Homo sapiens: one gene and its partner. The protein of the gene in region 2 interacts with the protein of the main gene of each other region in a pairwise test. Each region holds a gene or a part of one and is shown on either strand. Other genes may lie near its edges.

What was found.
Region 1: the proteins of LMNB1 (region 2) and ABCG8 interact in a two-hybrid assay, tested with the Homo sapiens proteins (one large-scale study listed by BioGRID and IntAct).

Annotation. Positions count from the first base shown.
Region 1 is NC_000002.12:43,880,230-43,883,488, reverse strand, and holds the end of ABCG8 (ATP-binding cassette sub-family G member 8), read right to left. Parts: 3' UTR 501-3,259; downstream 1-500. UniProt on the Homo sapiens protein: ABCG5 and ABCG8 form an obligate heterodimer that mediates Mg(2+)- and ATP-dependent sterol transport across the cell membrane.
Region 2 is NC_000005.10:126,829,136-126,832,635, reverse strand, and holds part of LMNB1 (lamin-B1), read right to left. Parts: intron 1-3,500. UniProt on the Homo sapiens protein: Lamins are intermediate filament proteins that assemble into a filamentous meshwork, and which constitute the major components of the nuclear lamina, a fibrous layer on the nucleoplasmic side of the inner nuclear membrane.

The sequences.
Region 1 (3,259 bases), on a different chromosome or scaffold from region 2:
TGCCTCAGCCTCCCAAGTAGCTGGGATTATAGACATGTGCCACCACACTCGGCTAATTTTGTTATTTTTAGTAGATATGGGGGTTCCACCATGTTGGCCAGGCTGGTCTTGAACTCCTGACCTAAGGTGATTCACCCACCTTGGCCTCCCAAAGTGCTGGGATTACAGGCATGAGCCACCACGTTCTGTTTTTCTTGTTGTTTTGTTTTGTTTTGTTTGTTTGTTTGGAGATCGAGTCTTGCTCTGTTGCCCAGGCTGGAGTGCAGTAGCGCGATTTTGGCTCACTGCAACTTCCGCCTCCCAGGTTCCAGTGATTCTGCTGCCTCAGCCTCCTGAGTAGCTGGGACTACAGGCACTTGCCACTGTGCCTGGCTAATTTGGTATTTGGGATAGAGATGGTGTTTCACTATGTTGCCCAGGCTGATGTTGAACTCCTAACCTCAAGTGATCCACCCACCTCAGCCTTCCAAAGTGCTGAGATTACAGTCATGAGCCACTGCGCCCAGCCGAAAGAGCTTTATTTTTAGCATGGGTCAGTAGAGCTTATTAGCAGTTTGGGGAAACAAGAATATTTCCAATTTTAAAGAGACGAGACAATCATACAAATGATGTGAGCACTATTACATAGAAAGCAGAGAAGTGTTTTTGAGTTGGTTTGTGTTTAAAAATCTCAACCCACTGCTTAAACGTTGTTTTAATTATTAGCTGCTAACACCACACGTGCTGCTGTTCCTAGTGCACCAGCAGAGAATGGGCTGTGCTCCATCTGCCTGCCTGCCTACCTGCTGAAGCTGCCTCAGGCAGAGCTCATGTGATAAAGACAGGGGATGTTGCTCTGTACCCAGGCCACTTTAAATGAAGAACAAATCATTATCAAGTACGAATGACAGATGACTTGAAATCTGAATTATCTAGTGCAGACTATTCACAAATAAGGATGTCTGTTGTCTCTCAGGTGTGAGCATTGGATATATTTTGCAAACAAGCAAAGGCCAACCAACAAAATATTTCATCACTTTCCCCGCATTCCAGTTCCTTGCACGCTTCCTCAGGGCCTGTTTGGTGCTCCAGACCCCAAGGCCGGTTGGGCCAAAGGAAAGTGGTCTGTATGCTGTGCTAAGCCACTATGAGGAACCCCTGGTCCCAGGTCTGTTAACACTTGGATTTGACAGATTTGAACATTTCTGTTGCTAGTTGTTTAATTTGGGATCATGACAAGAGTTGAAGTAGAAGAAAACAAAAGCAAATGCGAGATCTACCTCTGTAGACTGGTTTAACCCAGGGCAAGATTACATCTTATATACTATTTATAGGAACAAGAGCAGATTTTTTTTTAAATCAGGAAATATTTGAGCCAATATTGGTGATTATTTTCTGTTTAATTAAAATTCCCCACCAATAGCATAACTTGAAATTGGAGGGCTTAAAATGCAAATTTGAAAACCTTTACCAAGGCTCTGCAAACTACACCCTCAGGTCAAATCTAGCAACCTGCCTGTTTTTGTAAATAATACTTTCTTAGAAGACAGCCACACCGGCTGTACGTTACTATAGTCTACAGCTGCTCTCACACTGTAACAGCAGAGTTAAGTAATTGCAGCAGAGCCTATAAGGCCCACGAAGTCCCAAATATTTACTATCTGACTCTTAACAGGAAAACTTTGCAAGCCATGCTTTCAATACTGACAAATAAACAAATCTCTACCCTTTCGCAATGCAGGGCAGGGCTCGCTGAACAGCATGCATGCCTCGAGAGCCTTGGGTTTTTTTTTTTTTTTTTTGAGACAGAGTATCGCTCTGTCACCAGGCTGGAGTGCGGTGGCTCAATCTCGGCTCACTGCAACCTCTGCCTCCCGGATTCAAGCGATTCTCCTGCCTCAACCTCCCAAGTAGCTGGAACTACAGGCACGCACTACCATGCCCAGCTAATTTTTGTATTTTTAGTAGAGGCAGGGTTTTGCCATGTTGGCCAGAATGGTCTCGATCTCCTGACCTCGTGATCTGCCCTCCGCGGCCTCCCAAAGTGCTGGGATTACAGGCGTGAGCCACCGCACCCGGGAGAGCCTTGGTTCTTTGTTTTCCTGGCCTCACAATGCCTTGAAGAGCATTTTAAACAAAACAGACCCATGGGATCAGAGTCTCTGGGCAATGGGTCCACATTGGCTTTTGTTAAAGCTCCAGCATGGGCAACCAGGGTGGAGAACCACCGCTGTAGGAAAAACACAAATAAATGGCAGCTGCTATATTTTCTCCATCCCTCCTGCCTTTGCACTTTGCCCTTTTCCCCTTCAGCACGGCATACAGAGCCACTGAGTTACCAAAACCCATTGCAGACCGAATGGTGAACTCACAAAGTCAGGTGATGTATCTTAGTGGCTGTCAATCACTGCACATTAGAATTACCTGGGGAGTTAAGGCAAGCTACCAATGTCCTCTTCATCCTTCCCCCTTCTTCATTCAGGCCTAACGCCATTAGGGGACCACAGTGACAAGGAGGTGGGGGGAAGTTGTGGTGGGCCACGGGAGTGTGAGGAAGACAGCTGCAGACTCAGGGAAAGCTGGACTTGGGAGTTAGAGCCTGAGCAGGGTAGGCAGGACGTCCATACAGGAGAAGGCGTGGCAGTGTAGATGGGAGATTACTTACCTGCAGGCGGTTAATCAAATGAGTAAATAACCTAAGGGTAATGGAAGCCAGGTTTCTCACAATTAGAGAAGAGGGAAGAACCTAGGATCAACTCTGTGATGCTGGATTGGAAATGGATGTTATCAGAGTAAACTCATGTGTACTTAGGTGTATATGTATGCACATGCGCGCGCGCGCGCGCACACACACACACACTCCCTAACTCTGTTCACTGAGAGAGCCTGGGAGCAGAGATGTTCCACAAGCAAAGAGCATACTTATCACCAAAACCTTGGCTTCTAAATACCATTTTCCACTAAGAGGAACCCAGATTCTCTGGAGAAACATCGGATTCCAGGGCTGAGATGGGAAAATACAAGATGAACCTGTGACACCAGGTGCGGTGGGTCACACCTGTAATCCCAACACTTTGGGAGGCCGAAGCAGGCAGATCACTTGAGGCCTAGAGTTCACAACCAGTCTGGCCAATATGGTGAAACACTGTCTTTACTAAAAATACAAAAATTAGCCAGGTGTGGTGGTGGGCACTGTTAATCCCAACTACTTGGGAGGCTGAGGCAAGGCAATCGCTTGAACCTGGGAGGCAGAGGTTGCAGTGAGCCGAGATCGCGCCAT
Region 2 (3,500 bases):
GAGGGACCTTTTCTTTGCTTAAGAGACAGCATTTCTTGCCAGGCGCAGTGGCTCACACCTGTAATCCCAGCACTTTGGGAGGCCAAGGCAGGCAGATCACCCGAGGTCAGGAGTTAGAGACCAGCCTGACCAACATGGTGAAACCCCGTCTCTACTAAAAATACAAAAATTAGCTGGCCATGATGGCACGTGCCTGTAATCCCAGCTACTCAGGAGGCTGAGGCAGAAGAATGGCTTGCATTGAGGTTGCAGTGAGCCGAGATCACGCCACTGCACTCCAGTGTCACAGCAAGACTGTCTCAAAAAAGAAAAAAAAAAGAGACAGCATTTCTGTTTATTATTATTACTATTATTCATCCCTTTTTTTGGAGACAGAGTCTCACTCTGTCGCCCAGGCTGGTGTGCAGTGGCATGACCTCGGTTCACTGAAACCTTCACTTCCCAGGTTCAAGCGATTCTCATGCCTCAGCCACCCCAGTAGCTGGGATTACAGGCATGCACCACCACGTGCGGCTAATTTTTATACATTTTTAGTAGAGATGGGGTTTTGCCACGTTGGCCAGGCTGGTCTTGAACTCCTGGTTTCAAGTGATCCACCCACCTCAGCCTCCCAAAGTGCTGGGATTACAGGCATGAGCCTCCACACTTGGCCCCTGTTTATTATTTTTAAAGGGGTGGGGCGGGGGGAGCTGTATATCAGTAACTTTCTGGTTACTAAACTGAAATTTCCGCATAATTAGTAGCAGTTCTTATACCTTCCATATTTCCTGCAGGGGAGGAAGTACTATCCAATTCGAAATATCTGCTGAGAAGTTTCCACTGCTTTTTATCCTATTCTGTTACTAAGAATTCTACAAATTATTTGACATACTAAATTCTTTATAAAACTCAACATGAATTCAGCTTAAAGATCTTAGCTCCTGGCAAAGATAAGGTGCTAAATAAATGCTGAATAAAATGAAGCTGGAAGCCAACTGTGATCTCAGGGACTACCAGCAACAGGACCACCTGATAAGTGAGAAGAAAGGACAAGCTCCTTTCATTCCTTTCAGCAACTGATACCTCTTGAATGAAACAAAATCAAGACAGATGAACACTGTACACTATTTACCAATAACGTACTAGTGAGGTTCCAATGTATTCTGTACAGAAATAGGTCTCCTATCATTCACTAAAGGTATGACAGAAAGCAACTATTTCCATTTTCTACTAAAAAGGTCAAATACAGATTACTTTCCTGTGGAAAATGCTGACTTGGCACAAATGCAGCAGTGTTTTTGCTTAAGCACAAGGCTAACCTGATGATCTGGCAGCAAGTAAATGAGTGTGTCCTCAAGAGTGCTGCAGAGCATATAATTTTATTCTGTACCCTGTCCTAAGGTCACTCAAGAAAGAGAATGCTACAGGGGAAGACACAATATTACTTCAGTAAAAGCTTATCTAACACAGACCAGCTAGTTTACAATGGCAGAGAAAGAAAATCAAAACCCAGTGTCACAGAAATGAGACTTCGATTTGAAATATGCCCAATAATGTGTTTTGTAAATAAAGTAAGGTGGCAGAACAGTATTTTGTGGGGATTTTTTATTACTCTTGCAGGACCAAGGAAGATGGACCATTTTGAGCCTCTCAATTAGCCAGTAACTTCAATTCTGTGAAATTGGTCTATCTTTACAAACAGAAATAGCCATTTCACAAATATCAGTGTTTTAACCAAATTAGTAATAAAAAAAATGTGATTCTTTAGATCAACCACCGTTCAAGCTATCAACTAGGAGATAGCAGCATATAAAGCAGAAAAATAAATTCTTAAAAAACTTTGAGAGTACCCAGCTTTTCTCAACTCATCTTAAAATGAGGAACGAGTCAAATAAAATCTTCTATAACAAAATTACCACATTCCAGCTTCTAGAAGCTCGTGGTATACATCCCATATGCAAACATTGGCTCTTAAGGCTCATGATGTAGCTTAAGACTATTAGCCTCAATGAGAACCTCAGAAAACAGCAACTTGCCTGTCTTCATTATTATGAATTACCTTAACATAACTACTTTAAGTGTAACCCTGCTGTTAAGCACTCTTCATTTGAAAACATGCAAAAACCAATTAATCTAATACAGAAAGCCGTATAAAAAATGGGTGAGCTAATGTCTAAAAATCTAGGTAGAAAAATAATAAATAATAATTTAGAACCAAAAAGCTGTTGGGAGGTTTAGATCAAGGAAATTGTTATTAGTCAAGATGCTACTAAATAAATGTGTTTACCCCAAGTGTCCTGAAAGGTTCACATAAATAGTCTTACATGACAGGCTTTACTCTGTCTATAAAATGCAGCATTGGTCCGCCCCTGCTGCGAGCCTTGGGCATATGAAGGTGCACTGATCTGTGCAGTGGTGCCCGGAGCTGGCTGCACCTGCTGATGCTGCTCATCACTGCACAGCTCTGTGCTCAGTCACATAATGCTGGAAGCCTGGCATCAGCCACAGTAGGAGTATTTATACCACAGAAATTAGCAAATGCTACAAATCAGGGCGATCTTATGTGGACGAAAGATGATTGTTTATATTTTATATATTGCATCTCTACATATATAAGTAATCATTTGCATATACAAAAGTTTCCATTATATCTATATTCTGGAAAGTTTGGAAGGACTGCTTTATTTTTTATTTCCCTCATAAAAAACATCTTGTTTTTGCCATGGTGACAATCGCTGTTTTTAACCACCCAGTGCCCCCTCCCTCCTGAATAAGAGCCCCTAGGTTTACCTGGGTACACACCCCCCATGGAGCACACGTGTGTCACAAGGAGCCCAGTGCAATGTGGCTGTAGAGGGGAGGAAGAAGTCTTGAGCTCTAATTCCGCCCTCCCAACTCCAGGAACTGGTTTAGAGGTGGGCACGTGACCCACCCTAGTCCAGTGTGAGTGAAGCCCAGGATGGGTGCCTCACAGGGGATGAAGTTTAGCTTCCCTCCATAATTCAAACACTCAATATCAGATTATTTGGTGGGCTGGATTGTCCATTCTTTTAACAAACTTCTACTGCCTTCTGCTTGCTAGGCTGTTCTGAGAGAGTTCTGTCAGGAACGAGGAGAGAAAGTGGTATGAATACAGGTCTTATTTCATTAGACAGTTACTTTTGGTATGTATTCATTTAATTGGGTAAGACCATGTTTATCTGTCAGTAGTACCGGACCACGTTAGCAACAATCTATAAACTCCACCATAAAGAGCACTTTTTTGAAAGATCACCTTCCCACAAAAAGCAAATAGAAAAGACGTACCTCTGGGAGCAGCCAGCAGCTATCCTGCGTCCCCAAGGGAGGCAACCAGAAGAGAAACAACAGACAGATCCCCGGGGACATGCTGTGAGCCACTGGATTAGGTCCACTATTTAAATTTTTTATTATGTGAGCCCAAAAAATTTCCATTATTTCTAAGCCAGTTTAATTGGGTTTTCTGACATTTCCAATGCCCCAGCAAGAAGAAAAAAAAAAAC